4 linked regions of the Homo sapiens genome follow. The protein of the gene in region 1 purifies or fractionates together with the protein of each later gene. This does not show direct contact. Each region holds a gene or a part of one and is shown on either strand. Other genes may lie near its edges.

Region 1 (8,378 bases):
TCTTAAATAAAAACTTTCCATCAGCTGGGCGCGGCAGCTCACACCTGTAATCCCAGCACTTTGGGAGGCTGAGGCCGGCGGATCACTTGAAGTCAGGAGTTTGAGACCAGCCTGGCCAACATGGTGAAACCCCGTCTCTACTAAAAATACAAAAATTAGCCAGGGGTGGTGGCACGCACCTGTAATCCCAGCTACTCAGGAGGCTGAGGCAGGAGAATCGCTTGCACCCGGGAGGCGGAGGTTGCAGTGAGTGAAGATCGCACCACTGCACTCCAGCCTGGGCAACAGAGAGAGACTCCGTCTCAAAAAAAAAAAAAAAAAAATTCCATCGCACTGAGGCTCCCAAAAAATGAAATGTAGGTTTTAAAAAAGACATCAAAGAAAGATGGCCATCTAAATATGCCAAGGAAACCGTTATGCATTGGAGATAATTTTCCAACACAGAGATGTTTGGATCTGGCGTCCTTAGTAACATTTCTTTTTTTTTTTTTTTGAGACGGAGTCTCACTCTGTCGCCCAGACTGGAGTGCAGTGGCGGGATCTCGGCTCACTGCAAGCTCTGCCTCCCGGGTTCACACCATTCTCCTGCCTCAGCCTCCTGAGTAGCTGGGACTACAGGCGCCCGCCACCACGCCCGGTTAATTTGTATTTTTAGTAGAGACGGGGTTTCACCGTGTTAGCCAGGATGGTCTCGATCTCCTGACCTCGTGATCCGCCCGCCTCGGCCTCCCAAAGTGCTGGGATTACAGGCGTGAGCCACCACGTCCGGCCTCTTAGTAACATTTCTTAATCTTCAGTTCTGCAGTAATATTCTAGGAGATATGAACTATTAATAATAAGCAGTAAACAGTTTTTTCTAAACAATCCTATAGCTAACATACCACATGCCATTACACTGTTCTCTTGTTGGTTTTTATTTTGCTTCGTTTTAATGAATGTCTTGAATGCTATATAACTTAGAATGCACATATTTAAATCACCCCAAATATCACTTATTTGGCAACTCACTTCAAACTATATTCTGAACAAGCACTTTACAGGAGCAAAGAGTTTTCACCTTAACCTGTCATTATTCTGATGTTAAGAGGGGAGAGAGAGAAACAGAAAATGCATGTATGCCAAATTTCTTGAATCCCTAAGCTTCCCAATTATTTCGGCCTATTCAAAAATCGAGTCCAGGTGTGGTGGCTCACGCCTATAAATCCCAACATTTTGAGAGGCAGAGGTGGGAGGATTGCTAAAGCCCATGAGTTGGAGGTCATTCTGGGCAACATAACCAGATCCTGTCTCTATTAAAAAAAAAAAAAAAACTAAAATCTAAATAATAGAGTGTGTTTGCTAAAAGAGGGTATTTATTTAACAAATATTACTAAAATGTTAATGTAACTAAGCAATGCTTTTTATCTTGATTATGTCAAATATTATTAATAATTATAACTATTAAAATAATTCTATGAAGAAGTAAAAGAAATGGTATATATGAGATATGTAGCAAGTGAATGATATTTAACACATTTTTTACCTAAAATGAAATTATTTAAAAGCTCATTGTACCTCAAAGCTTTTTCACTGTAAAAATTTTGTGGAGCCTATGAAAATACTTCTGGCCACACATACATACATAAATATATGCATACATATATAGGTGTGTGTAACTAGAAGTATTTCATATACATATGCTACAATATTTAAGCCAGGTTCATAGGATGTTCTATAAGCTTCTACAAGACTCAAAGCATAGGAATAAATACTTCCCCCAGCTCATTTTCCAAGGGCAACAATGTGCTTTTCAAAACAGGCCCTTGATATTCTTCTAGTTGTTAGGAATAAAAACCTATTGTCACTTGCTTTTAAAAAAGAAACACTTAGGTATCCATTCCCATCAATGAAGTTAAAAGCAGTAGCACATTCACATGTTGCACTTAGCACCTTTCTTTTTAAGTAGTTCAAAATTTTTAAATCCAAAAGTACTAAGGGGGATTCACAGCAATGGCAGAGTGAAGAAATCAGCATATCCTTTTTCCCAAAACAACCATAAAACTGGGCAAGGCTAGGCGTGATGATTCACACCTATAATCTCAGCACTTTGGGAGGCTGAGGCGGGAGGCTCACCTAAGGCCAGGAGTTTGAGACCAGCCTGGGCCACAAAGCAAAACCCCATCATCACCAAAAAAAAAAAAAAAAAATTAGCAGACTCAGTGGCTCATGCCTGTAGCCCAATTACAAAGAAGGAATGTGTTCACATCCATGACTAAGAAAGGCTTATGGGAAAAAAGCAGTAGTTGAGATAAGGCTTGAAACAATAGTGGGATTTTGACAGTGGAAAATGAGGGAAGGACATCTCAAGAAAGGTCAAGACAAGATGTGTCCTGTCTGACCAAAGCATAGAGTTCAATTGTTTGGAACCTTTTCCTACCATAATACAATTCACAAACAACGTTTCCCCTGCTAGCTGCACGGTGCCTATTCCCATGGGTGCACCCAAAAGCAGAGAAAAGATAAGTGGCAAGGTGTGGTCTGTAATCCCAACACTTCAGGAGGCCAAGGTGGGAGGATTATTTGAGGCCAGGAGTTCAGGAAAACCTTTAATCCACTTTACATTTTAAAGAAAATAATCTGCTTACTTTAATATCATTTTTAGTCAAAAATCATTTGCTACATACCCCACAATGATGGTAATAACAGGTTAAGAACCACAAATGTGATGGGAAGTAAAGGTGAAAAACATTGGTCAGAGCTATCCCTGAGTATAAACAGAGGCATTTAAACAGTGAAGAGAAATGATTCAGCTTGCAGTTGAGAAGATTGCTCTGGAAATGTTGAGAAAGGGGATAGTACAGTTAGGAAGTTATTGCAAAAGTCCCATTTAGTTAGGGGTAATAGATGCCTAAATCAAGATGGTACTGGGGAAAGATGATACAATTTTAAAACGTGGCAAAAATAGAAGATAAGCTTTGTGAGGCCATAGGCGTAACATGTCACTATCTCTACTGGTCTCTAGCTGAATAAATATTTGTTGAATGAATAAATAAGATCTTGGTGGTAAGGCGGTGCATTATAATGGTGAAGCCAGACTGCTTGGGTTCAACTGGACCTCTTCCACTTACTAGCGCTATGATCTTAGACAAGTTACCTGACCTCGATGCCTCGGCTTTTCCATCTGTAAAATGGGACTAATAATAGTGTCTAGATTACAGGGTAGTTTTCAGGATGAAATGGGGTTACTACATAAAGTGCATAGAAGAGGGCCTGATACATATAGGGACATATTAGTTATCATTTTTATTTGTGAAACGTTGTCCTTTAACAGAACTTCAGATGTGAAAAATACAGTTCTGGGGGAAGAGCAATTGACAGCACTGACAGTGTTAAATTAGCCATGAAGTGAAGATGCCAGATAGTGTGGACTGGGGCCTTGGGAGAAAGGAAGGGGCTAGACACTTAGAGATCAGACTCCAGCCACTTCCCTCTGCTCCCCACAGCCCTCCCAATCACACTAGCTTCTTGCAGTTCCTCCAACAGATGCAGTTTGTTTCCTGCCTCCTTCCCACTGCTGTTGCCTCAACTTGGAAGGGCATAGAGCCTGGATTTAACAAATATTTGCTTAATGATTCAGTAGATGATCTTGGAACTCTTTTAAGTGGAGTAAATGTTAAATCCTTGAGAATGTATGAGACTGCCATAGAAGAAAGTATCCAGAAAGAAAAGGTATCAGTACAGAAAAGAAGAGTCAGAAAATACCGTGCAAAGGCACATTCAGAACGTAACCAGGATAGCTGGAGCCAGGATTCAAGGAGAGAGGTAGGTAACATTCAATGCTCAGAGGAGGCAAACAGGGTGAAGAATAAAACACTGGGTTTGGCAATAATTTCAGGAACGAACGCTGAGAAAGTCATTTTTCCATGAAGTTGCGGGGGGGTGGGGTAGAGGTCAGATAGTTAATTAGGGAAAAGAAGTCAACAAACTATTTTATCAAAAGGTTTAGGGAAGAGAAGCCACTCTCCTCCTACCAGAGAGTGAGGAAGCAACTGGAGAGAAGTAAACTACTGTACAGTGAATAAAAACATGGGGCTACATCCTAGAGGCGCTGTGCATCTTTATCTGCACAGAGTTTTGTCACGTCCACAGTGCTTTTCACACGCACTATCTAATCTGATCGTACCCCAGCTCCCTGATGATATAGCCTCTAACTGAGGGGTTCTCAAGGTGCGGACCAGCAGCAGCATCACAGATAACTTGTTGGAAATGCACATTCATGGGTTCCACACCAGGCCTACAGAATGAGAAACTACGGGTGGGGCCCAGCAGTCTGTTATAACAAGTCCTCCAAGGGATTCTGATGCTCTCCAAGTCCCCATAGCCACCACACTCGGGAGACAACCGCTGCAGCGCGCAGGGACCGCGGTTGGAGGACAGAATTTCCCCTTCTCAATCTTCGGCCTGTGTCCTCTTCGCTCTTAAGGGAGGTAGTGAACAATGAGACAGCCCCTCAGAGAAAAGTCGCCAGGCAGGGGACTCAGCTGGAGCGAACTCCGCCCATCCCGGCCAGGGCGGAGGCGAGGTGCGGATTCCTTCCCCAAACCACGCCCCCATGCCCGCCCCCAGCCTCCGCCCCCGCACGACCCGAGGGCCCCCCGCCCTCGGGCTTCGACTTCCGGTGCTGGAGGAGGGGGCCGGCGGCGAGGGACTCCAGGAGGACGCGTCCAACTTCGAGACCGGCGGGGGCCGGCTCCGCTCTTCCAACCCCTCCATGTGTGAAGAGGGCGGACGACGCAGCGGGGGAAGAAAAATAAGCTAGTCTAGGACAAGTGTCCAGGCGACGTGGAACCCAGTAAGGGAATAAAGAAGACTGGAAACGTCTCTCCCCTCCCCTATCCCAGTCCCTCACCCTAATCCGCGCGCAATAGAAAAGGCGGAAGCGCCTGTCCACGATCAGGGCGGGGCAAGGGGAAGAAATCTCGCGATAGGAGAGCGGTCCGGGCGGGGGTGGCACCTCTCCCTCCTCCTGGCGTTAGTTCCGGTCGCAGAGGAGACACCGCCGCAGTTGCCGGTACATCGGGGATTTCTGGCTCTTTCCTCTTCGCCTTAAATTCGGTGAGACGCGGCGCCCCGCTCACCCCGGGCGGACGCTGCGGGTCGTGGACGCCGGGCAGAGGGAGAGGGAGGCGGCGGGCTGGATGCGGCCCGGCTTGGATGGGCCCGAACGGAGGTCGCCTCTTGAGGCCGGGCCGGATCTAGGGCCTGAAAGGCCGCCGCTTCGGCAGGGAGGCCGAGGGGTAGCGGCGGCCCGGGTGGGGAGGTGGGGTCCGGGTGTGCGCCGCGGCGCTGGCTGCGAAGGCAGTGGCCGAGGCGGGCTCCCTCTGGGCCGTGCCCGGCCTGGCTAACAAAGCCGCCGCGGCCTCTGTTGTGTGATGTACGCGTGGGGGCTTCCGGCGGGCGGGGCGGAGGGGCTGCCACCCACCACCGCTGCGGCCGCCGCCTCCGCCGCTGCTTTCGCTGGAGGGCGGGCGGATGTACGGGGCGCCTGGGGCCCCGGCGCAAAGCGCCTCAGTGACTGTGGTCCGCTCGTTGCGGCGGCCGCCACCGCAGGCGACAGGGTCAGTGGAGAAAGAGCCGCGGGACCCTACGGCGCCCCGCTGTGGCCGATGGGGTCCTGGGCGGGAAGCGGGTGATCTGTGGCTCGGGCGGGAGGCATGGGAAGGGTGTGGATTGGGAGACACGTTACCGGGGAGGAGGCTAGGACTGTGGGATATGGGCGAAGGAGGCTGGGCTGGCTGTTAGTTTTGCAGGCCTGAGTGGTGCAAGGCGGCCGCTGTTGCGGTCACAGGCATGACCTAGGGTAGGATGGTGCTGCCCGTAACCAGGCTTGTCAGAAGAAGGGGTTCACCTTTTGACAGTGTTTTAGAATTGGCATACACATTTTGGATGCCTGCTGACTATGGTGATAATCTCTCTTTGCGTTCTGCGATGCTTAGTGGTCGTGGAAGATGTAAGTGAATGTAAAGAGGAATGTGGAGAAAACTGAACAATTAGGTTTATGACGGGTGATCACTGTAGCACTACAATGTCGCTTAAAAGTAGTTCACAGCACTAATTTGAAGGGTTTCTTGTAGAGAGAAATGCACATTTTGACGTACATTTGATTCAAGTGCAGGTAATTCTTTGTGCCTGTATCGGGTATAATTGCCAGCTTTATATCCTGAGAGTGGGTGTTCCATTTGATTCATATGTGACTAGACTAAGGTTTGATGTTTTGCTTTAAAAATTAGTATTATGGCACTGATATTAAGGCTTTATTTCTCCTTTCCTAGGGTGTCTTTTATGAATAATCAAAAGCAGCAAAAGCCAACGCTATCAGGCCAGCGTTTTAAAACTAGAAAAAGAGGTAAATATTTACGTTTTAATGTCTCTCTTCAAACCTCCAGAACATCTTGTGTATCTTGCCTTCTCTGACAGGTACTTGCATATTACTAAAGCCTCAAAAGAAGATACCAGAAAGAAACTTGAATTTCTCGTTGACTGCCATTTCACATACACCTTTAATATTTCTACTGCTTTACTGCTCAAGCCTTAATTTTTAGTATCAATATATCTCTAAGCCGGTTAGTGAATCTTCTTTTCGGTGTGAAGGTAAAATATTTTTAAAAATAAAAATAAGGGCTCTGTTTTCACTAGCAGGCAGTCTCATTTAAGCAAACTTAAATGAGCAAAAATGTTAATTTATAAAAGGAGAACTCCTAATGTAGTCACCCAGATTTTGTGAAGATTTGTGAGAGAAAACTCAGACTTCACCCATGGAAGTTAATTGTGGAACAGGATTCACATTGTAATGTCTTTTGAAATACAGACTTAGTAGAAAAAGTATTAGAATTATATTACTATTTTTTTTTTGCATTAGTGTGTACTTAGGTGAGTATTGAATTCTGTAGCAAAGTGCTGTGCTAGTGATATAAAGCTAAATAAGACGTAGTCTCAGATATATTTTTACTGTTTTTGGTCAAAAGCATATTAACCTTGTTTTACAGGTGGTTTTGAGGAAATGAAGAACTAGGTCAGCTACTGGTTATAAGTTGTGTTTTTCTTTTTCTTCCTTAAGTAGCAGACATTTTGAGATATATATTGTAGAATTTTAAAATCACTAATCATAGGCTGTCTGTCCCCTTGTAGTAGTGGTGGGGAGACCAAAGTGTGATTTGATTCTAATCTTTGCAGATTCATTTAGATTTAGCTGGTAAATTTTCTTAAGGAGCTGGAGTTGTAAACTAGAACAGTTTGGCAGTAAAATGGGAAAGTGTATCTCTTGAATATGTGGGTTACTGATGTTACCTTGATACAAATAATAGCAAGTAGCTTTAGCATTCTTATTATTAGCATCAGGGAGAGATGTAACTTCCCCGGTTCCAGATAGAGATGATTCGTGGCCTGGCTGTTGATGGTTAGGGTACTGGGTAGGGTATACAACACTCCCTGTCTGGGACTGAGGGAGTTTCCAGACACAAGACTTTCAGTGCTAAAACCAGGAAAGTGCTGGGCACTCAGAGGTGTTTGTCACCCTAGTACTGTGTGAACAGATGTCATCTAGCCTAGATTGGGAAAGCAAAACCCTATTATGAAGTGTGTGAAAGCAACTCAGTAAAGGTCAGGTATGTGCACAAGGCTGTGGTCTGGGAGCTTTCTATTTTATTAATGTCATTTGGTATTTACAACAACTTTATGGGATAGGTACTATTCTTATCCCCATTTTACAGTAGGGGAATTCTGGCATGGCGAGTGAGACTATTTGCTTGAATTCAGGTGGTTAAATGGTGGTCAGGATTTGAATCAGGCAGTTTAACTCCAGAGCCCATGTACTGAACTACTACACAATATAGTCTCTTGATTACCTAATTTCTCTGACTCTCAGTTTTCCTTCTGAATAATAGGGGGAAAAATCTGCCTCACAAGGTTGTTAACAGGATTAAAGCAAATGCTTAATATAGTTTCTGTCATTGGGTGCTCATTAAATGTACTTTCTAAAGCTCACCTTCATAAATGCCAAAGGATTGGTTCAATTTTTTTGTTTGTTTAATATTATGGACATTTAAGGAAAAGGATCAAGAGCTCCAGTGTCTGGACAAAACCCAAAGGAATAAAATGTACCTGTTAGAGGATGGCCTAAATTTTGGAAAAGCCAAGAGGCAGTAGGAGGGCGTTCCCAGTAGAAATTGGCTTATGGCAGTAGGAACACAAGACACTAGCACATTTAGATCACTTGTGAAATTATTTGAAAAGTTGCACAATTCTTGTGAGTGGGCCATCTTGTCTTACACTTGCAGAGGGGAAACATGCAAAGGATGTGAATTTAATCTAACTTATTTAACAATTGCATCTTCATAAGG
Region 2 (7,832 bases), on another chromosome or scaffold:
CACTGGCCTCTGTCACACTCTTCAGTCTTGCCAAGCACACTGGCATCTCAGGACCTTTGTGCCTGCTGTCCCTGGAAAAGTCTCTCCTCAAAAGGTTCATGCAATTTGCTCTCATTTCATTCAGATCTTGGCTCAAATGTCAATTCCTCACAGAAACCTTCCCTGACCATCCATCTAAAAACACCAATATGCCAGGACCTTTTCTCCTTTCTTGGCTTCACTTTTCTTCAAAGCACTTTTCATTACCTCCTATTACAATCCTATTTTTCTGTCTTCCCCAAGAACGTAATGTCCACGAGGGATTTTCTGTTTTGTTCACCATTGTGTCCCAGGTGCCTACAATAGTGCATTTCACATGTGGTAAGCATCAATAAATATTTATTCAATAAATGAGTCGTTTTTTAGTCTTCTTTTTGTGCATTTAAAAAATATATTTACCCAGTAGTACAAGAATATAATTTATAAATAAAAAATATACTAGGGAGACACACTCAAACATTTTTTACCGAAGGGGTATATAGTAAAAAGGAAAGAAAATTCTGACAATCACAGATGTAACCAATCAACAAGCCAGCACACATGCCCTAAGGAGAACGTCATGGAGAGCCTGTCACTCACTCTCTCAGGAGACTTTGGTCATCTCCAGCTGCTCCTCGCAAGAAGAAAAAACTCCCCATATGGGGTTAAGGCCTTCAACCAACAATTCTGTCCTCTGTCCTTATGTTCCTCTGGAATATTTTGCTAGAAATGAATGGATTGTTTGTTCTGATACAAAGAAGGGTTGATTACTTACTGGTCCTACGCAATTGAGGACAACTGTTGCCTGTTTAGCCATTTCATCAAGCGAGGCTGGATTAGCAATATCACAGATGATGATTCCAACTTCAGATGACAGTGTTGGTCTTCCTAAAATAAGAAACAAATGAAGGAAAGTAAATCCCAGTAGAGGATTATATCTTCCTTATCTTCTTTTTACAGTAATCAGTGACAGCAAATTACTAAATACACTGATATGCTGAAAGCTAGCTCTCCTGCTTAGACAAAAGATAAAACTGTTTTTAATCAGGTAATACAAAAGGAAAAAATTATGAGGAAAACTGAGTTAACACTAAGAGTTACTAAAAAACTGACCTTTTAAAAAAAATCGAATCAAAGCGTTGTGTAAATAACAACCCTGTGTAACATGACAATTTCACAATCAAGTTTAAATGCTGAGCAGATAACTATCCAGACTTCCTCTCCAACAAGAAATTTATGTCATAAAATAGTTTCTTGGCCAGGGGCAGTGGCTCAGCACTTTGGAAGGTCAAGGTGCAAGGATCTCTTGACCTCAGGAGTTCCAGACCAGCTTGGGCAACATAGCAAGACCTTGTCTCTACTAAAAAAAAAAAAAAAATTATCTGACATGGTGGCATAGCCTGTAGTACCAGCTACTCAGGAGGCTGAGGCGGTAGAATCACTTAGACACAGAGGTCAAGGCTGCAGTGAGCTGTGATCACGCCACTGTACTCCAGCCTGGGTGGCAGAATGAGAACTTGTCTTTAAAAAAATAAAGTTTCTCATCAACCACTAAACAATTACTATGATCCAATTGTAGGTGATGGAGAGTTTCGGACTGACTGTTAACATCAAAACCATCAGGGCTGGGTGCAGTGGCTCACGCCTGTAATCCCAGCACTTTGGAAAGCCGAGAAGGGTGGATCACGAGGTCAGCAGATCGAGACCATCCTCACTAACACGGTGAAACCCCGTCTCTACTAAAAAAATTAGCAGGGCGTGGTGGCGGGCGCCTCTAGTCCCAGCTACTCAGGAGGCTGAGGCAGGAGAATGGCAAACAAACAAACAAAAAACAAAAAATTAGAACTCTGAGGTGAAAAGCACACGCTATATAAACACACACAGGCTCATAAGAAAATAATTGGAATTAACTGGCTCAACTAAGTGATGCAGGTTTCAATAGGTGAAGGTATATCCCCCCACAATGAAACTTGATTTGGGCATTATATATGATAAGTGACTAGGCTGTACCGGTACGATCTTGCTGAGCCGAAAAAAGAAATGGAAGCATATATTTTCATAGTAAAATTACTTCTGTTGGAAAAATAACGACCAAAAAGCTCTTTGGTCAGAATTACGTGTTGGTAGTGTCAGCACCAAAAGCTGTAGGAGAGTCCAGCCTACGTGGTGTCTTCTGTACATAACCACGAACAAAAGCACTCCGAGCAGGGCATTGTATGAAAGTAGATTAAACAGAAAGAATGTAGTATTTCCAGAACTCTAATGGGTGTCTGTATAAGGGAAATCTACGGGAGTTAATAGCCAAATTTAAAGGCTACGGAGTCGTAAGTCAGATGTCTCCCCAGCCATGAAGGCAGCAGGATCCGTGTGTCTGTCTCCTCTCTGTCCCATCCTGCACCCCAGACTCGGGACAGGTCTTAGCATGGACAACGTCACTCAATAAATATATGCTCCTTCAATGCTTAGAGAATCAATAAATATATGCTACCTGAATGCTTAGATTATCAATAAATATATGCTACCTGAATGCTTAGATTATCAATAAATACATGCTACCTGAATGCTTAGAGAATACGTAAGCGTCTAAACCAGAAATACACACTTTTTATTCTCTGAAGAGGAAGACTGCTGGAGTATTCTTACACACAAAACAAGAAACTAAAACAGAATAGCCACAAAGACACTGTCAGTACAACTCGTAAGCTTGCTCTCCCGTCCTCAAAACACGAGGCAAAGGGAGACTCCGATCTCCAAGAGACCAAAGCCCTCCTCTCCTCTCCGACCAAACATCTAGAAACCCGCAGATTCAACAGGTGCCCCCGCTGCGGGGCAGGATGAAGCAGAGAGAGGGACAACTCAAGTTCTTGACCATTTCGCCAGGGGAGCTCCCCAAACTGAGGCAGAAATGCAAAAAGCGGGAAAGAGGAGAAGGAAAGAAAAAAAAATGTGTGTGTATATTATACACGCACGCGCACACACACATATAGTTAAGGAGGTGGGACAAAGCTATGGCAGTATTTGAAACATCTCTCCCTCTCCTCTTCTTGTCCTCACGCAGGGCTCGGGGACACGTAGGGCGCATCCCTGCGGGAGAAACGCTCGTTTGGGGCGATGCGGGGTCCCCGGCCCAGCCGCCCGCGCAGCCCCGTCCCGCCCCGCCGCTGTACCCAGCTTCAGGGCCGCCTTCTCCAGCACCCGCTGCAGCTTCTCCCGGGAGCGGCCCGCCACGGCCCAGGGCAGGCGGGAGCTCCGCTCCGGGTCCACCTGCTCCCGGGCCACCTCCTCGGTCACGAACTGGCCGGTGAAGCCAGACGCGCCGAACACCACCAGGTGGAAAGGCCTCTGCTCGGTCGCCATGACGAGTCCACAGCGAGCCCAGGCCCCGGGGCGGGTGGAGTCCACGGCGCCTGCGCCTCAGGCAGCGACCCCAGTACCCGGCGCAGCAACGGCCGCCGTCGCCGCAGCCAGCGCGCCGGGCTCCCTTCACCCCGCGCGCGCCGCCGCGCCAGGGCCGCGCCCACGCCCACGCCGCCTCGCGCGGGAGCCGCGGGTGAGCGGCTTGCTTGGGAGGCTTCCGACGGGAGGTTTCCTAGGGCGGTGGCCCTGGGGGCGAGTCCGCTTCCAAGCCTGGCAGGCGCGGACGGCGGCCCCTAATTCCGTGCGGCGGTTTGTTCTGCAGGGCTCTGGCCGCCCCGGGCAGCGCATCTTCTAGCCCTGCTGGAAGCTGGAGGCGGCAGCCGGTTGTCCTTGTTGCACGTGGGGGTGGAGCAAAGAGTGCGAGAAAATCTGCGGATGGCCTCGGGGATGGCCCACCCCGAGAACCCTTGAGCTTGCTTGCTTTCTTCCTTTCTTTCTTCCCTTTTTTCCCTTTCTTTTCTCTTTTCTGTTTTTGAGATGGAGTCTCACTCTGTCGCCCAGGCTGCAGCGCAGTGGCGCGATCTCGATTTACTGCAACCTTCGCCTCCTGGGTTCAAGCGATTCTGCCTCAGCCTCCCGAGTAGCTGGGATTACAGGGGAGCGCCCCCACGCCCTGCTAATTTTTGTGTTTTTAGTAGAGATGGGTTTTCACCTTGTTGGCCAGGCTGGTCTCGAACTCCTGACCTCAGGTGATCCACCCACCTCGGCCTCCCAAAGGGTCGGGATTACACGCATGAGCCACTGCACCCAGCCCATTCCTGATTTTTAAAAACTCTCATTAAAATAGGAATAAATGAATGCTTTTAAAAATTTTGAAATATATGTCTTGCAAAAAAGGTACAGCCAATAACAAATATGTACCCTCAACACAGCTTAAGAAAAATATTCCAGATAGCGAGGCTTCCAGGTATTCATTCCTGAACACATTTCCTTTTGCGTCCCCAAGACGGCCACTTGCCTGAATTTAGTGTTTATTATTCCTATTCCTATCTTTCTGCTTGTTATATATGTATGTATTTATAAATATTATAGTACCGTTTTGCATATTTTGAATATTTTGTAAATGTCAATCCTGCAGCTTTCTTATTTGGTCATGATGTCGTGAACTTATTCCCAAATGATTCAGAATAAAAAAAAATGTCTGTGATACGTGTGTGGAGAGAGGGAGAGAGAGAGAAATACACCAAATTCTACAATGCTTTTGTACAATGTTGTATAGTGCTTTTGTGCAATATAATACAAAGAATGCTACAATAAAATTCTTGTACCTTTCTCCTAAAGCACCTGTGCGAAAGTGTATTGAATATGTGTCAGGAATGAAAATGGTTGGTGCTAGAATATCCATATTTGAGTTATCTCACTGCTCTTTAAAGCACATGCACTAATTTTCGCTCTCAGCGGGATACAAGAATCCTCTTGCTTTACGTGCTTGTCAGCACTTGGTATTCTCAGACTTCATGCTTGTCCATCTGGTGGGTGTAAAGTAGTAAGCATTCAAGTATTTATTAAACACTTAACTATATACTGGGCACTAGGAATAAAGTACTGGGGATATGGCAACAAATAAAGCCCCTGCCCTCAAGAAGTTTACATTCTAGTGGAGTAAACAGTCACTAAAAAATAATCTTACAGAGCCAGGTACAGTGGCATGCACTTTTAGTCCCAGCTACTTGGGAGGCTGAGGCAGGAGGATTGCTTGAACCTAGGAGTTGGAGGTTATAGTGAGCTACACTCCAGCCTGGGTGACAAAGTGAGATATTGTCTCTAAAAAGAAAATAAAAACAAAAGAAAACAAAAAACCCTAAAAAAACAGAATATATATATATATATATATATATATATATATATATATATATATATTTTGTTTTTTGGGAAGCATGCTTGCTATGGTTTGGATGTTTGGCCCCCCCAAATCACATGTTGAAATGTAATCCCCAGCATTGGAGGTGGGGCCTGGTGGGAGATGTTTGGGTCATGGGGGTGGATCCCTCATGAATGGCTTGGTGCCATCCCCAGGATAATGAGTATGTTCTCTCTGCATAAGTTCATACAAGAGCTGGTAGTTGAAAGAGCACTCATCCTTCTCTCTCTTGGTCTCTCTCTCACCATGTGATACATTGGCTCCATTTCACCTTCTGCCACGATTGGAAGCTTCCTGAGGCCTCACCAGAAGCAGATGCTGGCACTACACTTGATGTACTTCCTGCAGAACCATGAGCCAAAATATAAACTTTTTTCTTTATAAATTAACCAGCCTCAGGCATTCCTTTAAAGCAACGCAAAAATGGACTAACATAATGGTCATTGCAGCATTGCTTTGTAATAACAAAAAGTAGAAATAACTGAAATGTCCTTTATCAGAGGAATTATTAAATAAATTATGGTGTCCTATTCATTCAATAGGAACTGTGCAGCTATAAAGAATGAAGAATGACTATTCAGGTGGTTCTAGGTAAAAAACACACAACAACAACAAAAACAAAAGAATGAAGTAGGCTGGGCACAGTGGCTCACGCCTGTAATCCCAGCAGTTTGGGAAGCCAAGGCAGGAGGATCACTTGAGTCCAGAAGTTTGAGACCAGCCTAGGCAATGTAGCAAGACCCCATTTCTTAAAAAAAAAAAAAAAAAAAAAAAAAATTTTTTTTTTTAATTAGCTGGGTGTGGTGATGTGCATCTGTAGTCCTAGCTACCTGGGAGGCTGAGGTGGGAAGATTGCTTGAGCCCAGGAGTTCGAGGTTACAGTAAATCATGATCACACTACTGCACTGCAGCCTGGGCAACAGAGCAAGGCTATGTTTCTAAAAAAAAAAAAACAAAACAAAACTGTGTATAGTGACACGGAAAATCTTCCAAATTTCCTAACATTACAAGAGTATATTTAAGACAAAACAATGTATGTATATGCACACAAAATGTTAAGAATACATGATAAATCTTTTTTTTATTATACTTTAAGTTTTAGGGTACATGTGCACAACGTGCAGGTTAGTTACATATGTATACATGTGCCATGTTGGTGTGCTGCACCCATTAACTCATCATTTAACATTAGGTATATCTCCTAATGCTATCCCTCCCCCTTCCTCCCACCCCACAACAGGCCCCGGTGTATGATGTTCCCCTTCCTGTGTCCATGTGTTCTCATTGTTCAATTCCCACCTATGAGTGAGAACACGTGGTGTTTGGTTTTTTGTCCTTGTGATAGTTTGCTGAGAATGATGGTTTCCAGTTTCATCCGTGTCCCTACAAAGCACATGAACTCATCATCTTTTTATGGCTGCACAGTATTCCATGGTGTATATATGCCACATTTTCTTAATCCAGTCTAACATTGTTGGACATTTGGCTTGGTTCCAAGAATTGCTATTGTGAATAGTATTGGGGAACCTGCCCCGATATTCACGTAGGTTCTTTTCTATTTTCCCTAAGTGTCGGCCAGCTTGAGAAATAAAGGGACAGAGTACAAAAGAGAGAAATTTTAAAGCCAGGCGTCTGGGGGAGACATCACATGTCAGTAGGTTCTGTGATGCCCCACAAGCCGCAAAAACAAGCAAGTTTTTATTAGGGATTTTCAAAAGGGGAGGGAGTGTGTGAATAGGTGTGGGTCACAGACATCAAGTACTTTACAAGGTAATAGAACATCACAAGGCAAATGGAGGCAGGGCGAGATCACAGGACCACAGGACCGAGGCAAAATTAAAATTGCTAATGAAGTTTCGGGCACCACTGTCATTGATAACATCTTATCAGGAGACAGGGTTTTGAGATCAACTGGTCTGACCAAAATTTATTAGGCGGGAATTTCCTCTTCCTAATAAGCCTTGGAGCCCTATGGGAGACTAGGGTCTATTTCATCCCCTGCAGTCTCAACCATAAAAGACAGGTGCACCTGGGGGGGGGCTGTTTATAGGCCTATACCTCCAGGTGCGTATTCTCTTTCCCAGGGATGTTCCTTGCTGAGAAAAAGAATTCAGTGTTATTTCTCCCATTTGCTTTTGAAAGAAGAGAAATATGGCTCTGTTCTGCCCGGCTCACCGGCACTCAGAATTTAAGGTTATCTCTCTTATTCCCTGAACAATTGCTGTTATCCTGTTGTTTTTTCAAGGTGTCCACATTTCATATTGCTCAAACACACATGCTGTACAATTTGTGCAGTTAATGCAATTATTACAGGGTCCTGAGGTGACATACATCCTCCTCAGCTGACAGGATTAAGAGATTAAAGTAAAGACAGGCATAGGAAATCACAAGGGTATTGACTGGGGAAGTGATAAGTGTCCATGAAATCTTCACAACTTATGTTTAGAGATTGCAGTAAAGATAGGCATAAGAAATTATAAAAGTATTAATTCAGGGAACTAATAAATGTCCATGAAATCTTCACAATCCACGTTCT
Region 3 (7,554 bases), on another chromosome or scaffold:
TGTACAATTGGTGTCATTGCAATGACGTCTGCTAAGGTGCCATCACTCCTTTAATACCACGGTGTAAAAGTCAACACAGTGAAAGGGCAAATAATGTCTTAATCTACTGAGTTTCTTTTCAATTCTCTCTCTCTAACCATAAGAGAGCATCAAGATCCCCCAGATGCTTGCTAACGTCAAAAAAAGCTTTCTAAGCAGGAGGGGGATCGGGAAACACATCTTTAGGAACAAGCTAGTTTCTCAAAAATATTCACCTGAAAACCAAGATAGTGATTTTTTTTTAAGACTCTCAAATCACACCTGTTATAGGATGTTTGCCAGCTAAGTCTGTGCAAAGTCCTGAAATACGGTGAGAAAATGGTCAATCCATAAATGAGAAACACTTGTGACAATTCGCTGTGACAATTTACTTCCTCCAAAATGATTTTCTTATGCATATTATACATATATATAAAATATGGAGATATGTACATACACACGTGTGTGTGTGTGTGTGTGTGTGTGTGTGTGTATGGAGAGAGAGAAAGAAAGAGAGACAGAGAGAGATTGAGAGAGAGAGAGAGATAGACATGGGGTTTCATTATATTGCCCAGGCTGATCTTAAATTATGGCCTCAAGTGATTCTCCTGCCTCGGTCTCCTTTAGAGGCATGAGCCACCACACATCCCAAAATCACTTTCTATCAAAACTCTCTATTTTTCTATTCTACTACATTTCAAAATAAGCCAAGAAGGAAACTCAAACTAAGAAGAAAAGCACAATTTCCCAAAAGTATACCTACTTTGGAAGCTCCCAGAAACAGCTGATTGTTGACTTCACACTAATAAAGTGCACTAATTTTGGCTTCCACCCAGGAAAATCTCATCACTGAACTACCAAAGACACATATATATCTCAATATAGAGGCAAGCTTTAGCATCACCACACCAGAAATTTCTTAGGTTCTAATTACACATTGTTATACTGAAGCAGGCAAAGGAGAGTTGGAAACCCAACAGCAGGCCAAGCTTGATGAATAGGATATAACATTTAGCAAATGAATGGGATGGCATTAGCTATTAGTCCGTGATAAAAATCTGTAGATAAAAGTCCTTCCAGTTACCATCATAGTCTATTATGTACTAATGGTGTGGCTTTTGCCTATAAATTTAGCCCATTGTTGCTAGAAGTAGAGTAAATCAACCACCTACATCTGAATAACTTGAGGTGCTTGTTAAAAAGTGAGGATTCTTTGGGTCCATTCCAAATCTATTAAATCATAATCACTGAGATTGGAGCCTAGGAATCTCTGTCTTTAACACTTCCCAGGTGGTTTTTATGCACAATAATGTCTGCATGGAAACCTGACTGAATCCCTGACTGAGCCTCAGATTCCTTATCTGTAAAGCAGAATTGACTGTCATCATACTTTCCTATTTCACAGTTGTTGAGTATTGAGGATCAATCAAAAATATATGGGAAATGCTTTTTAAAGCTGCCAAGTGCTACAAAAATGATTATAACCATCTAAACTTCTACCACCTACACTTCTACCAACACCTCTTCTAAAAACTAAAAGTAAAAAAAGGTAAAAATAATTTTTCAAAGACACTACAGATATCTTAATTCTTGCAACTAAATCTCAGATAACTAGAATACTCAGAAAATAGTCTTCCCGTTAATATTTAACTGAACATTCTGGTCACTCTTTTGAAAAACCTTAAATGTGTTCCTACATTGTCTTTCCTTGGTAAATGCATAACTTAGTTTTTATCCGATGACAAGGGATTTTCGAGCTGGGTCAGAATTCTGAGTATCAGGTTTTGTTGCACAAGATTTATGCTTAGAAGAGTAATCTATGTTCGGCCCTGAGCTCATTTGCTAAAAGGTTTCTTGTTTATTTTTTCTTGTTTGGGGGGTATTTTATGGTTGATGGAGGCATGCTTATTTTAACCAAAAGCAGATCTCTAATTACAAGTTGTATTCCAAATGCTTATTTGTTCCTAAGTTGTCTGGAACTTAAATGCCTCTCCCCATAGTAAGAAAAAAAAAGAAGTTATAAATCATGATAAAGTTCTCTGGCTTGTACAAAAAGGCCACAATATAGATGAAATACATTTGCTGTATCTTAAATGTCACACAAATATTTTACAATGGTAGTCATCAAACTTGAGAGCAAAATTGAATATGAAACTATTTTCATTTACCTTTAACATTGCTACTTAAGATAAAAAGAGTCAGCTGGATGAAGATGAAAAGCTGATACAGCCGGGCGTGGTGGCTCACGCCTGTAATCCCAGCACTTTGGGAGGCCGAGGCGGGCAGATCACTTGAGGTCAGGAGTTCGAGACCAGCCTGGCCAACATGGCAAAACCCTGTCTCTACTAAAAATACAAAAAAAAAAAAAAAAAAAAATTAGCCAGGTGTGGTGGTGTGCGCCTGTAATCCCAGCTACTCAGGAGGCTAAGGCAGGATAATCACTTGAACCCGGGAGGCAGACAGAGGTTGCAGTGAGCCAAGTTCACTCCACTGCACTTCAGCCTGCACTACAAAGTGAAACTCCGTTTCAAAAAAAAAAAAAAGGCTGATAGATAAAAATTTCTGTAAATGCTCTAGAAAGGTTAATGGCCCCCAGTTCTTTATTATACAGAACACATAAGGTCTCTCAATGTGACCACCAAGGATTTTCTTCAGAGTCATGATTAGGATATGATGGGGGCAGGAGATGACAAAACTGAGTGTCCAAAGTTAACTAAACAAGTGAAATAGAAATTAGCAAAGTGCTTTTGAAACAGTAGCTACGTATCCCTGAGAAAGAGACAACATGGAGTGGAAACAGCTGAGCTACAAATGGTGAAAAAGAAATACCAGAACAAGATTCAAGGCAGAAGAAAAGAAGGGACAGAAAGCAATGCTGAAGAAGAGCGAAGAATCACAAAGACTGAATTCAGGGTGTGGCAGCAAAGTTATCAAAACCAAAGAGGCCTTGGTGTAAGTGAAGGAGGCTCTCCTTCATACATGCCGACTGCCACACTTGGAGTGTCTGTACCTGAGAGAATGTTCACTGACTAGATTTCTGATTCTGAATCCACGTTATCACAGAGGCCCCGTCTGCCTTCTTCTTAGGCACCTTCACCTTAGTTGGGTACTTCTGTTCCTTCACTATCTCCTCCATCTCCCTATACCCAAATAAAATTATATCCCAGTTTTAATCTTACCCCTGAATTTATACCCAAGTGTCATCTCTATGTGGATTCCTGACCATCACAGACCCTATGGGTCCCTGCTTGTGTATTTAGTCTTCCCATCTTCCCCTTTTCCAAATCAAAGTGTGGCTCAGTCTAACAAAAAATGCAGTACATTCATTCAAGCAATTAAAAGCTGACATTGAGTGTCAGGTACTATCCTCTGCCTAATAGTAAAAACAACAGTCTTGGGTTCCTAGGAATCCTTTATGTATTTTATTAGAACATGTGAAACAAATACCATAAGGGACACAGAGAACACTTCTCTGGCCTCTTAAGATGCTCTGGTTATTCTGAAATTAAAATGTTCAACTATGGCTGGACAGATAACAAATTTTATAAACCAAAGGAGCAATGTCAACTCCAAGTCTGATTAAGAGCAGAGACTTAGCTTGAACATTCTTCCTTCCATATTCTAGAGTTAAGATAATGGATCATAAGGGAAGGAAAAGGAAGCTAATTGAATTATAATTTTTACACCCAAATCTCAAATAATGCCAGCTTCTGCCTCTTATAAAGAAGTCTTTCACAGCATATACTCAGGGCAACTTGAATCTATGCTCCTGGGTTGTATTCCTCAAACTTGGCCCAAATAAAGCTCTATAATTACATTAATTTTGCCTTGGTTTTTTTTTTCTTTAGGTCAGCAGGATTCACAGTGACTTCCCACCACCACCTGGTGTTTTTCTCTAAAATCAGTGCTTGGTACCAGCATGAACTCATTGCATTCTCCATTTTTGGAAGTCCTACCACATGTTGTGGAGATGAGGTCTCACTCTGTTGCCCAGGTAGGTCGTGAACTCTTGAGCTCAAGCAATCCTCCCACATCAGCCTCCCAAAGTTCTGGGATTTCAGGCATTAGCCTCTATGCTCCGCCAGAAATCTTATCTTGTGTGGTTGAAGCTCATTGAGATTGGATGGATCGGCATTTCCATTGTGCAAACCACACTCAGTCTTCCAGAGTGGAAGAATAAATAAATGGAATCATGAAAAGTTAATTGGCAAAGCTTACAGAAAGCTTTAACCTTCCCTGGCCTAAGGCTCTTCCATTTGCTTAACTTACATTCTACCCTGCTTGGAAAACATCAGCTTTCTCCTTTTGAAATAAGAATGGAAAGATCCATGCACCTGGATGAAGGAGACTACGAACCAGCTCTCCTGAAAAGTTGTAAACTAAAAATAAAATCCAAAGCCCTCGACCAACTGAGTGGACCCACTCTCTGCCAAGGAAACCCCAGAGAAACCTCAAAAACTGAGCTCTCAGTCAAAATAGGAAGAGAGGTCAAACGCACTTAATTCTACTCCCTCCCTTTTGGAGTTGAGGCGTAACAATTGACCAGCATTAATGTTACAATAGAAATAAGACCGCGAAAACGTCTCTGTGGCAATAAGACACCAAGTTATAAACAAGACCTTAAGGGTATGCAAGGGGAGGGTTAAGTCATGTCTGCACACCCATCAATTTTGCTACATAGCATCATGCTTAACTTACAACATCCCTTTTTTTTTTTTGAGACAGAGTCTTGCTCTGTCACCTAGGCTGGAGTGTAATGGTGCAATCTCGGCTCACTGCAACCTCCGCCTCCCAGGTTCAAGCGATTCTCCTGCCTCAGCCTCCCAAGTGGTTGGCACTACAGGCATGTACTACCATGCCCTGCTAATTTTTTTTGTATTTTTACAAAAAAAGAGGTTTCACCCTTTTTTTGAAGGGGTTTCACCATGTTGGTCATTCTGGTCTTGAACTCCTGACCTCAAATGATCCCACCTGCCTCAGCCTCCCAAAGTGCTGGGATTACAGGCATGAGCCATCACACACAGCCACAACAGCCCTTTCTGTTGATTCCAAGTTTTAGACAGAGCCTTACTCCTTTAATCAATTGCAAATTAAAGAATCTCCGAATCACCGGGCAAAGTGGCTCACGCCTATAATCATAGCACTTTGGGAGGCTGAGGTGGGTGAAATTCCTGAGCTCAGGAGTTCAAGACCAGCCTGGGCAACAAAGTGAAACCCTGTCTCTACTAAAATACAAAAAAATTAGCCAGGAGTGGTGGTGTGTGCCTGTAATCCCAGCTACTTGGGAGGCTGAGACAGAAGAATCGCTTGAACCCAGGAGCGGGAGGTTGCAGTGGGCCGAGATTGTGCTATTGCACTCTAGCCTGGGCAACAGAGCAAGACTGTCTCAAAAAAAAAATCTCTGAATATGCTGAATAAATAACCTGTAAGCCCTTGCTTTAAGATATCCCACCTTTTCATATGGAATCAATGTATACCTTTCATGTACTGATTTATGTCTTTGCCAGTAACTCCTGCCTCCCTGAAATATATAAAAACACACAGTAATCCAACTGCCTCAGGTGCACATTCTCAGGACTCCTTGAGAAAGTGTTTCCCCGAGCCACAGTCACTCATCTTGGCTCAGGATAAAGCTCTTTAAAATATTTTACAGAGTTTGGTTTTTCCATTAACAAGGTGATACTCTTCACTATTGTCAAGGCCTTATAAGTTTCTCACTGAAAATTCTAAATTAATTAAGGATTCTTTTAACAGCAAGCTCTTAGGAGACAAAAACATCAAAGATCATGGTCTCCAACCTGGAAGATTTTGTTTAATAGAAAATACCATCAAATAAAGGACTCCTAGCCACGTTAGAAGGGCCAATATCAGGCTACCCTGCCTAAGTGGACATCTTCCTCAGTGGAGATCTTCAACACTTTGTTCTTTAGACCAGGACAAGAAGTGGATTAAAATATTCATTTGGTTACCTTCAGGAATAGGAACACTTTTCATATTTGTATTTCAAGTTGTTTTGTTGATAATTGTCCTTATTTGTGTCATCCTTTTGATTCTTAAATTGATTATGCTTTGTATTTCTAGATGTCTAAAGTCTACCACAAAATTCTATAACAAAAAACTCATCATAATAGCTAGATGCTTAGAAATGACCCAACATACCTCAACTCCAGTGTAAGTGAATGACCTGAAATCCCGCTGCTCTGTCCCCTTATTTTTCAATCCAATCCCTGAATTGTTGCCTACCAATTCAGCCTTGGAACCTCACTAAGTTTTTAAGTGATAGTACTTCTGCCCATCTCATTCCCTCTGACATGGGACAAGACTATCCGGAAATGAGCCTTCCCAGCAATGTGGGACAAACTTACATCCAAAACGTTGATCATCAGTATTTTAAGAAGAGAAAGATTTTTATTAAAAGGAGGAAATGAGAAAGAAAAATTGCTCAGAGCAGTCTGAGATATGCGAACTATGCAAAATTTATCAGGCCCAGAGGGACATGAGCATGGGACTTCAGTCACATCACTGCACCCATTCCCAGGGGCAATTCTTTAAAAGCATTTTGTTCCTGACAGCTGCCTCACCCACTATCTTCATGTTCCTGGAATGTGTGATACAAAGAACAATGTATAGCCAACCAATAGCTCGTTATTGTAACATGAATGCTTGATAAACAACTTAGGAACTGCCTCTTCCTTTTTCCTTTAAAAACCCATTTGTAACTGCTGCTAATAGGAGCATCTACTCAGGGCAACTTGAATCTATGCTCCTGGGTTGCAGTCCTCAAACTTGAGCCAAACGGACTCTCTACATATATATAGATATAGATATAGATATAGATATAGATATAGATATAGATATAGATATAGATATATAGATATAGATATAGATATATGTTTTTTTAAAGAACTCTTTCACTGAAACATGAAAGTAGTCTTCAGTGACCACCACCCATACGCAAGCCCTTTACACATACACAGATACACAGATATATGTATTCATAAGTATAGCAGAAGGTCACAAACAACACAAAAAAAATGCTTTTGAGGAGCTAACTGGAGAAATGTATTGCAATGTAGTTGAGAATTACATGACTGTAAAATCACACCAAGAAACAAGAAGGATATTTAAATACATCTCCAAGTCAACACATCTCGGTGGAAGTCTACACTTCAGTTCAAAACTTCATTTACAACCAAGGAAAGGCATCTAATATTTAACATACCTACTGACACATGTAGAGAATAATACTTGTTTTTCCCTCTTGCTGTTTTCCTCAGTTTGGCTCAGTACCTAGGCACAAGCATTCCAGGGCCCAGGGCCAAAAGCCTCTAAAGCACAGCTTGGTGGCCCTCTCCTAAGATCAACCACCACAATGGGGAGAAGCCAGGGTAGGACAGAATCCTCACTCCTTCATCCACTCTCACACATCTACATCATTTTAGTTTATCTGAGAAAACTGCAGAGTAATGTAAAAATTACATTGCCACTGCAACATGATTGCCTCTGAAAGGCAAGGCAACGCAACTCTTCTATTTA
Region 4 (7,554 bases), on another chromosome or scaffold:
AGAGTAGCCTCCAGTCTGCCCGGATTTGAATCCTAACTCTTCCTCTTAGAAGCTGTGTGATCTGGGAAGATGACGTAACCCTGAGCCCGATTTTCTTATCGGTGAAATGGGGTCGTTATGACATCCCGCTCTTTGGGCTTGCCTGTGGGCTGGCCTGTGATAGACCCGGTGTGTTTGCCATTGTCATCATTGTGATGGTCACCTGCCCCTATGTGGTGATTCACTCACCTAATGTTTCCAAATGGCATGGAAAGTCAAGACGACTTCTGGATTCATGGACATCTGGTCACTGGAGGCCTTGGCTGGTGGTACTCAAAGACAATCAGAATGCGACATCAGCTTTGTTCAAGCAGAGATTCTGAGTCAAATCACTCCTCTGGCCCCCAATACCAGGATGGGGCCTGTCTTAGCTGGGCCCCACTTTACATCTTTGTGACTTTTGTCAGCTCACCCCCAGCCTGGTGCCAGCCCAGTATCAGTTGTAGGGAAATCTGGTAACATTTCTACTAGCTAACACGTGTCCAGTGCTTACCACGCCCTAGGCCCTGAGCTACCCAATAACTGTGTTCTTTGGTTCTCACCACAACCCTATGCACAGAGGAAATGGAAGGCACAAAGTGGTGAAGTTGCTTGCCCAAGACCCCGTAGCTGGTATGTGGCAGAGCATAAATGCAAACCCAGTTCTTCTGGCTCCAGAATCCTGCCCTAGACGATGACACTTTTGATCAGCAGTGGATGCACCCCAAATCATGCCTCTGTTATTGACCAAAGCCTGATCCACTCACCCTTGAGTTTGAGGCCCACTGTGAACCTGCCCAGAAATGCCTACCTCCAAGCCCTTTCTTCCTCCACTGCTCCCACCCAGCCAAAGCAGACAGGCAGCTGCTCCCCCAGAACCACTTCCTACTTCCTCATCACTGCTGATACGGTTCTCCCTTTAGGGATGCTCTTCCCCTAAGATCTGCCTCTAAGATTCCACTCAAGGGAGCCTCCTTGATACCCCAGGTGGAAGGGGTCACTCCTTGAGCACCAAGTCCACCCCCATCACAGGACCCTCTGTGTGACCTTCTAGTATTGTTTATGGTTGTGACCTCACTGCCCTAAGACTGTCTACTTCTGACCCCACAAGGGCTAGCACTGCCCTCAGAAAGCTCAGCCACTGTTTGCTGAATTTAATTAAAAATACATCTCTAATAACCTCTTTGTAAAATAGCTTGGCAGTTTCATAAAAAGTTAAACGTACATCTTCTTCACGAGCCAGCAGTTGTACTCCTAGGTATATTCCTACGGGAAATGAAAGCACATGTCTGCATAAAGGTTCATGTATGAATATTCACAGCAGCATTATTCATAACAGCCAAAACCTGGAAGCTGTCAAGATACCCATCCACTGACGAATGATTCAGCACACTGTGGTATAGTCATAAATGGAATACTACTCAGCCATGAAAAGGAACAAATTCCTGATAAACACCACAACATGAATGAATTGCAAAAGCAGTGCTCTGAGTCCAAGAAGCTGGGCAGAAAGGAGTTGGTGCCCTGATTCCATTTTTCTCAAGTTGTAGAAGAAACAAACTAATCTACGGTAGGAGAAATTCAAATTCAGATTCTCCCCATCCCCACCAGTTACCTCTGGTTGGTGGAGAGGGGGAGAATTGGCAGGAAAGGGGCACAAAGAAACTTTTTGGGGTGATGGAAATATTTTGTACCTTGCTTTAGATGTTGGTCAGATGGAATATACGTTTGTGGAAACCTGCCAAACTGTACATTGAATATCTGTGTGTTTTTACCACATACAGTTAAAACTAAAAAAAAAAAAAAAAAAAAAAAAAAATTGAGTATAAATAAATAGCAAATTTAATTTATTTTTAAAAACTAGTTTTCATTCTGTTACTGTTTCTTTTTCTTCAGTATTCCAGTACCAGTACCCGGAGAGAACATGTCAAAGTTAAAACCAGCTCCCAGCCAGGCTTCCTGGAACGGCTGAGCGAGACCTCGGGTGGGATGTTTGTGGGGCTCATGGCCTTCCTGCTCTCCTTCTACCTAATTTTCACCAATGAGGTAAAATGTCTGGGGTCTTCCTGTGCAGAGTGAGAGTCCCCACCATGTCAGAGAGCAAAGGCGATGAACCCGGAGGCTGGATTTGGTAATCAAGGGCCTAGATTTTAAAAAGAGAAAGGAGGATACTGAGTTAATCACAGTTCTTTCCATTGTGATCCATCCCACAGCTGATGTGAGCAGGAAGGGGAGTAGATCAGTTCACACACCTGAATATCCAGGGGTTAGCACCTGCCTCAGGCGTAGTTGGATCCAGGTGTTCATGCTGGGTCACCAGGAATCTCCATTTCTTCATCTTTTGCCTGTTTTTCTCTATTATGGTGTTTTTCTTGGGCAGGCACTTCATCTGTGATGGCAAATGTGGCCCCAGCAACTGGCCTACATCCAACCACTTAGCCCAGGGAAGAGAAAAACCATCTGTTTCTCTTCCTTTCTTTCTTTTCCTTTCTTTCCCCTCCCTCCCTCCCTCCCTTCCTTTGTTCCTTTCTTCCTTCCTTCCTTTGTCTCTCTCTTTCTCTCTTTCTTGTTTGTTTGTTTCTTTCTTTCTCTCCCTCTCTCTTTCTTTTTCTCCTTTTTTTTAATAGGGCCTCATGATGCAACAGTATATTTCTAAATCAATTTAGCAGCAGTTACAGGGCCATCTCTCAGTGTCCTGGCTTGGCTCTCCGTCCTCTGAATCAGTCTCCGTGTCCAGGGCGCACTCACATGTTCTGACTGGCAAGGTCTGGGTCCCATAATCTGACCAGGGTTCAGATAGACTCAGGTAAACCACATGGGCTGAGTAGGAGAGAGGAGAGCCAGGCATGGAGGCTCAAGCCTGTAACCCCAGCACTTTGGGAGGCCAAGGAGGCAGGATCGCTTGAGGTCAGAAGTTCGAAAGCAGCCTGGGCAACATAGCAAGACCCCATTTCTACAAAAAACTTAAACATAAAAATAAAATTAAAAAAAAGAAGGCAGAGAAAAATGGGGAGAAAGGGACAGGCAGGCAGAAACATCAGCTGTTCCCACCACTGGGGCAGTGCTAAGATTGGTGGGGGCTAGTGGGAACCAATGGGGCAGTAGGAAGAAGTCTCCCTGGGAAAGCAGGAATCTGGGTTCCAGTCCTTACTCTCCACTTGCTAGACCTCAGTTTTCCAACTGTACGGTGGGGAGATGGGTCTCAGCGCTCCCGGAGGCCCCATCCTACCCTAATACTTTGCAACAAGCACAGTCATGCTGAGCCACCCCTGAGCTGTTGAAATCCCCACTCCCCTTTGCTCCCAGGGCCGCGCATTGAAGACGGCAACCTCATTGGCTGAGGGGCTCTCGCTTGTGGTGTCTCCCGACAGCATCCACAGTGTGGCTCCGGAGAATGAAGGAAGGCTGGTGCACATCATTGGCGCCTTACGGACATCCAAGGTAGGTTTGGCAGGGGATGCTGACCTGCCAGTGGCTCGGGGCTCATCCTGGATGTTGTCTGGCTGAGGATTTGAAAGCATGGGCCTTGGAGATGGTCACACATGGGAGTGATTCCCGACTTTACCACTCAGCAGCTGTGTGGACTTGTCTATCCTGAGTCTCAGTGTCTTCGTGTATAAAATGGGGACGGTAATGGTTACAAGCTTGTGGCCAGCCTTGAGGATTTGGTGAGATTAGGTAACTAACGCCTTGGTACAGTGGCTGGCACTCAGGGAGGTGCTCTCATGACTCTGATGACCATGTGTGTCCAGTGCAAGGCCACAAAACTACCCTGGGCACCAGAGCTTTCCTGTTATTTGAACACCCTGTACGCTGTTGGCACCATGCCATTGGGCCATGCAGCCCAGGCCTGTACTGTGAGGGTCACAGTCACAGGCACTGTGTGTAAAGAACCTGGGACAGGGAGTGTCCTCGATTCTCCCCTGCAAAGCAGTGTAGGGCTCTCCACCCTTGTCCCCTTCTCTATTTCTTCCTCTTCCAGTCCAGCTTCCCCTGAGCCAGGCTTTCTGGGCTGACGTGAATGTTATCCTTTATTTTTTTGGTTTCTTTGATTCTGTTTGAAGCTTTTGTCTGATCCAAACTATGGGGTCCATCTTCCGGCTGTGAAACTGCGGAGGCACGTGGAGATGTACCAATGGGTAGAAACTGAGGAGTCCAGGTGAGCTGTTGGGGTGAAAACTCTGTTGGGGTAAAGGAGGAGTGAAGTGTAGGTGTCAGGATAACATGCAGATGTCTTTCATTTTGATACCTTTGAAACTCAAGTATAACATCTTCCTATCAGAAAAGTGTGAAATGATCCCCAAATTAATAGCCAGTGATTTGGAAGTGGCAAAAATCCAGTGAAGAGTGGCTCCAGGAGGAAAGGGGGATTGAGTTGCTCCCACATCTGGGAAGTTCCAGAGATGCACAAGCTTGAAGCATGACTTGGAGCAGGCCTGAAACACTGTCATTAGGATCAGCATGTCAACCCCGAGACCCCACTGCATCTCTCTGTGTTCAGCCTTCCCATCAGCTGTGTTGGTCCCATCTTTGCTCTACTTACAGCTTATCGTTTCTGACAGGAGTCCCAGGGCAGGTTCTCATTGATCAGGGCTGGGGTCACCTGGAGCTGGGGGTGGGTTCAGCCCCACCTGAATCATATGGACTGTGACCGACAGGTGGGGAGGTGGTGGGAGGAGCAGGAGAAGGGCAGCTTCAAGAGGCCCCCCGCAGGGCTGTCCTGGAGCAGAGGATGCAGCCAGATCTCTGAGCCCAAAGGGCAGGGCTGGGCCCCTTGGTGTAAGGCCAGTGCGGGCAGATTTCAGCTCAGGATGGGAGAGCGCTTTCCTCCAGGTAGCGCCTTGGAGGGCAGGAGCTGGCTGTCTGTCAGGAGTGAGTGCCCTGTCTTGGGGCTGGTGTAGAGAAGGCATCTGCCGTATCTGGGGAGTCTGATCTGGTAGCCCTGAGGTTGCTTCCTGCTCAGATGCTTAGAGATTAGACTGCCTGGGGCGACGAGGCTAACCCCCGTGGCTGCTTTGCTTTCCCTGCAGGGAGTACACCGAGGATGGGCAGGTGAAGAAGGAGACGAGGTATTCCTACAGTGAGTGCTGGGCCCCTTACGTGGTCTCTGCCCATGGTGGGGGCCCACAGTGGTGGCTGGACAGCAGGGCTGTTGGTGGGGCCATGGGAAGGATTCAGCACCAGGCATCAGGATCCCTGGGTGCAAGTCTTCAGAGCCCTGCTTTCCCACCCATCCATTGAGGCTCCCTGACCCACCCCTTTGGCTGTGAGATAGGAGGAGCTGGGCTGGTGGGTCTCAGCCGCGTGCCACTCCTACCCGGGCTCTGAGTTGATTCCTCTCCCTGAGCAGACACTGAATGGAGGTCAGAAATCATCAACAGCAAAAACTTCGACCGAGAGATTGGCCACAAAAACCCCAGGTGAGAGCCAGGCCCAAGGCCTGAGTGCAGCTTTGTCTACACTGGCAGGTCTCCAGCCTCAGTTTCTTCATCTGAATAACAGGATTGAGTTAATCCTGCCTCGTGGGTTGAAAATGTGGGACATGGGTTTGAGACCAAGCCCTGTGCTGGGCACCAGGAACACAGAGACTTGTCTCCCCTGACCCCAGACAAGCTCCCCGCAAACAAGTCACAAATATAAGGCCTGCACTAAGCGTCTAAGGGGATTTGCACACACGGGGCCGGGGAAGCATTTTGTTAATGGTTTGCCATGGGTGGGAGGACAATCAGGACAGGCTTTCCAGAGGCAGCGGCATTTGTTCAGGCTTCTCAGGATTTCAGCAGAGGGAGGTTAGCTCCACGGCATGCCAGTGGTGAGGCGGGCATAACACTTGGGTGTGGCTAGAGAGCAGGCCTTGTTCAGCAATGGTCTGGGCTGTGCCAGTAAGATGGTTGGGATGGAATGCTCTGGGAGGGGCTAGTGAGGGGTGTAAAGTCCATGCAAGATACATCTGACAGCAGTGGGTGGGGCAGGACAGGCTGGCAGGGGTCTAGGCAAGAGGGTAGGAAGCTCCGGGGAACAGGAGACAGAGTGAGGGTGCTCAGCCCAGGGGAGGGGGCACAGGGCCCCTGGGGGTGGACAGGACAAGATGTCTGCTGCGCCTGGGCTAATCTGGACTTGCAGGAACCCCCGGGTGGGGACCCTGCCCAGCACAAACAACCCAAAGGGACCCGGGCAGCTCCCACACCGGTGCCCATCTCTGACAGCTTCCTCTCTCCCACAGTGCCATGGCAGTGGAGTCATTCATGGCAACAGCCCCCTTTGTCCAAATTGGCAGGTTTTTCCTCTCGTCAGGTAAGTCTCAGGCCTCTCCAGAGGAGCTCGTGCCAGAAGCACAAGGCCCCCCTAGGGCCGGAGCTCCCAGTACTCAGCCTTCAGAGGGCTAAAGGCACAGGATCAGTCTGCACCTTTCCCAGCACCATGCTTTGGGGGCCAGGGGAAGGCGAATCCCCAGGAAGCAAGGGCTGACGTAGAAACCCCCACCCCACTCCATCCTACCAGGTTCCTCTGAAATCTGGGTTGTTCCAGAGAATGACTCAGGCATGCATCCTCACCCTGCTGCGTGCCGGTGTCTGCTGAGTAGACTCTGCTGAGACAGTCCTTCCTCAAGCAGACTCCGGCTAGTAGTAGACATGTGGTGGCTCAGTGCTCTCAGCCTAGGGCTCCCCCTCTCTGAGTTCCACCTGTCCCAGGAAGGCACTAGCTTATCACAGGCATCCCCCATTGACTCCAAAGAGAAGCTTGCAAGGGATAAGGTGGCACCATGGGCCAGAGTAACCCTGGGGCTCTGTTCCTGGGCCTGACCCATGAAGGTGGGAGAGGATACCAAGGGCCCAGATAGTCCTGGGGAGGCTGGATGATCCTGGGCCTGGCCTGGCCGCTTTCTGTGTGCTTTGTTGCTGGATGGTGCCTGTGTGCCAGCTGGGCCTGCCCTCAAGTAGCTCTCAACCCAGGAGGTGAGTCAGGCTTGGACGTGGATGGCCGTAACCTTGATGGAAGGGAAAAGGGCTAAGGCCACTCCCAGTGCTGTGGTCACTCTGACTTGGTGGGAGAGGGCACAGGGAAAGCTTCCTGGAGGAGATGGTCTAACCCAGGGGAAGCCGTGGACGAGACAGAGTCAGAAAGAGGCACTGCAGGTGGGAGTGCCACGTGTGCAGGCTCCAGGGGTGCAGTGGAAGGGGGTCAGGCCAGGGACTTTGCAGATTGAGGTTTTCACCTGGTCCCCTGGGTTTCTAACCACTCTGGTCCCCTCAGGCCTCATCGACAAAGTCGACAACTTCAAGTCCCTGAGCCTATCCAAGCTGGAGGACCCTCATGTGGACATCATTCGCCGTGGAGACTTTTTCTACCACAGCGAAAATCCCAAGTATCCAGAGGTGTGCGGAGAGGCCTGGGCTCTCCAAATAGGAGGGTCAGGGCGCTAGGATCAGGTTCCTGCGCCAGGCAGATTCAGTTCAGTCGCATGCACAGCTGCACTTGGCCAAGTGCAGCTGAGTGGGAGAGGCCCTCTGGGTGACGGCACAGCCTGGGCACGGG

The links.
Region 2: the proteins of BZW1 (region 1) and SCCPDH purify together in Homo sapiens (affinity purification with mass spectrometry; 3 studies listed by BioGRID and IntAct, with this or other methods). This does not show direct contact.
Region 3: the proteins of BZW1 (region 1) and ENPP1 purify together in Homo sapiens (affinity purification with mass spectrometry; 3 studies listed by BioGRID and IntAct, with this or other methods). This does not show direct contact.
Region 4: the proteins of BZW1 (region 1) and TMEM43 purify together in Homo sapiens (affinity purification with mass spectrometry; 3 studies listed by BioGRID and IntAct, with this or other methods). This does not show direct contact.

What each region holds. Positions count from the first base shown.
Region 1 is NC_000002.12:200,806,897-200,815,274, forward strand, and holds the start of BZW1 (eIF5-mimic protein 2), read left to right. Parts: upstream 1-5,013; 5' UTR 5,014-5,094; exon of another isoform or gene 5,095-5,274; intron 5,275-5,288; exon of another isoform or gene 5,289-5,411; coding exon of another isoform or gene 5,412-5,413; intron 5,414-5,489; exon of another isoform or gene 5,490-5,511; coding exon of another isoform or gene 5,512-5,597; intron 5,598-6,311; coding exon of another isoform or gene 6,312-6,321; coding exon 6,322-6,385; intron 6,386-8,378. UniProt on the Homo sapiens protein: Translation initiation regulator which represses repeat-associated non-AUG (RAN) initiated translation probably by acting as a competitive inhibitor of eukaryotic translation initiation factor 5 (EIF5) function.
Region 2 is NC_000001.11:246,719,966-246,727,797, reverse strand, and holds the start of SCCPDH (saccharopine dehydrogenase-like oxidoreductase), read right to left. Parts: upstream 3,390-7,832; 5' UTR 3,376-3,389; coding exon 3,186-3,375; intron 907-3,185; coding exon 794-906; intron 1-793.
Region 3 is NC_000006.12:131,810,712-131,818,265, reverse strand, and holds part of ENPP1 (ectonucleotide pyrophosphatase/phosphodiesterase family member 1), read right to left. Parts: intron 1-7,554. UniProt on the Homo sapiens protein: Nucleotide pyrophosphatase that generates diphosphate (PPi) and functions in bone mineralization and soft tissue calcification by regulating pyrophosphate levels.
Region 4 is NC_000003.12:14,127,498-14,135,051, forward strand, and holds part of TMEM43 (transmembrane protein 43), read left to right. Parts: intron 1-1,914; coding exon 1,915-2,064; intron 2,065-3,324; coding exon 3,325-3,459; intron 3,460-4,082; coding exon 4,083-4,177; intron 4,178-5,048; coding exon 5,049-5,098; intron 5,099-5,365; coding exon of another isoform or gene 5,366-5,368; coding exon 5,369-5,438; intron 5,439-6,241; coding exon 6,242-6,312; intron 6,313-7,272; coding exon 7,273-7,394; intron 7,395-7,554. UniProt on the Homo sapiens protein: May have an important role in maintaining nuclear envelope structure by organizing protein complexes at the inner nuclear membrane. Required for retaining emerin at the inner nuclear membrane.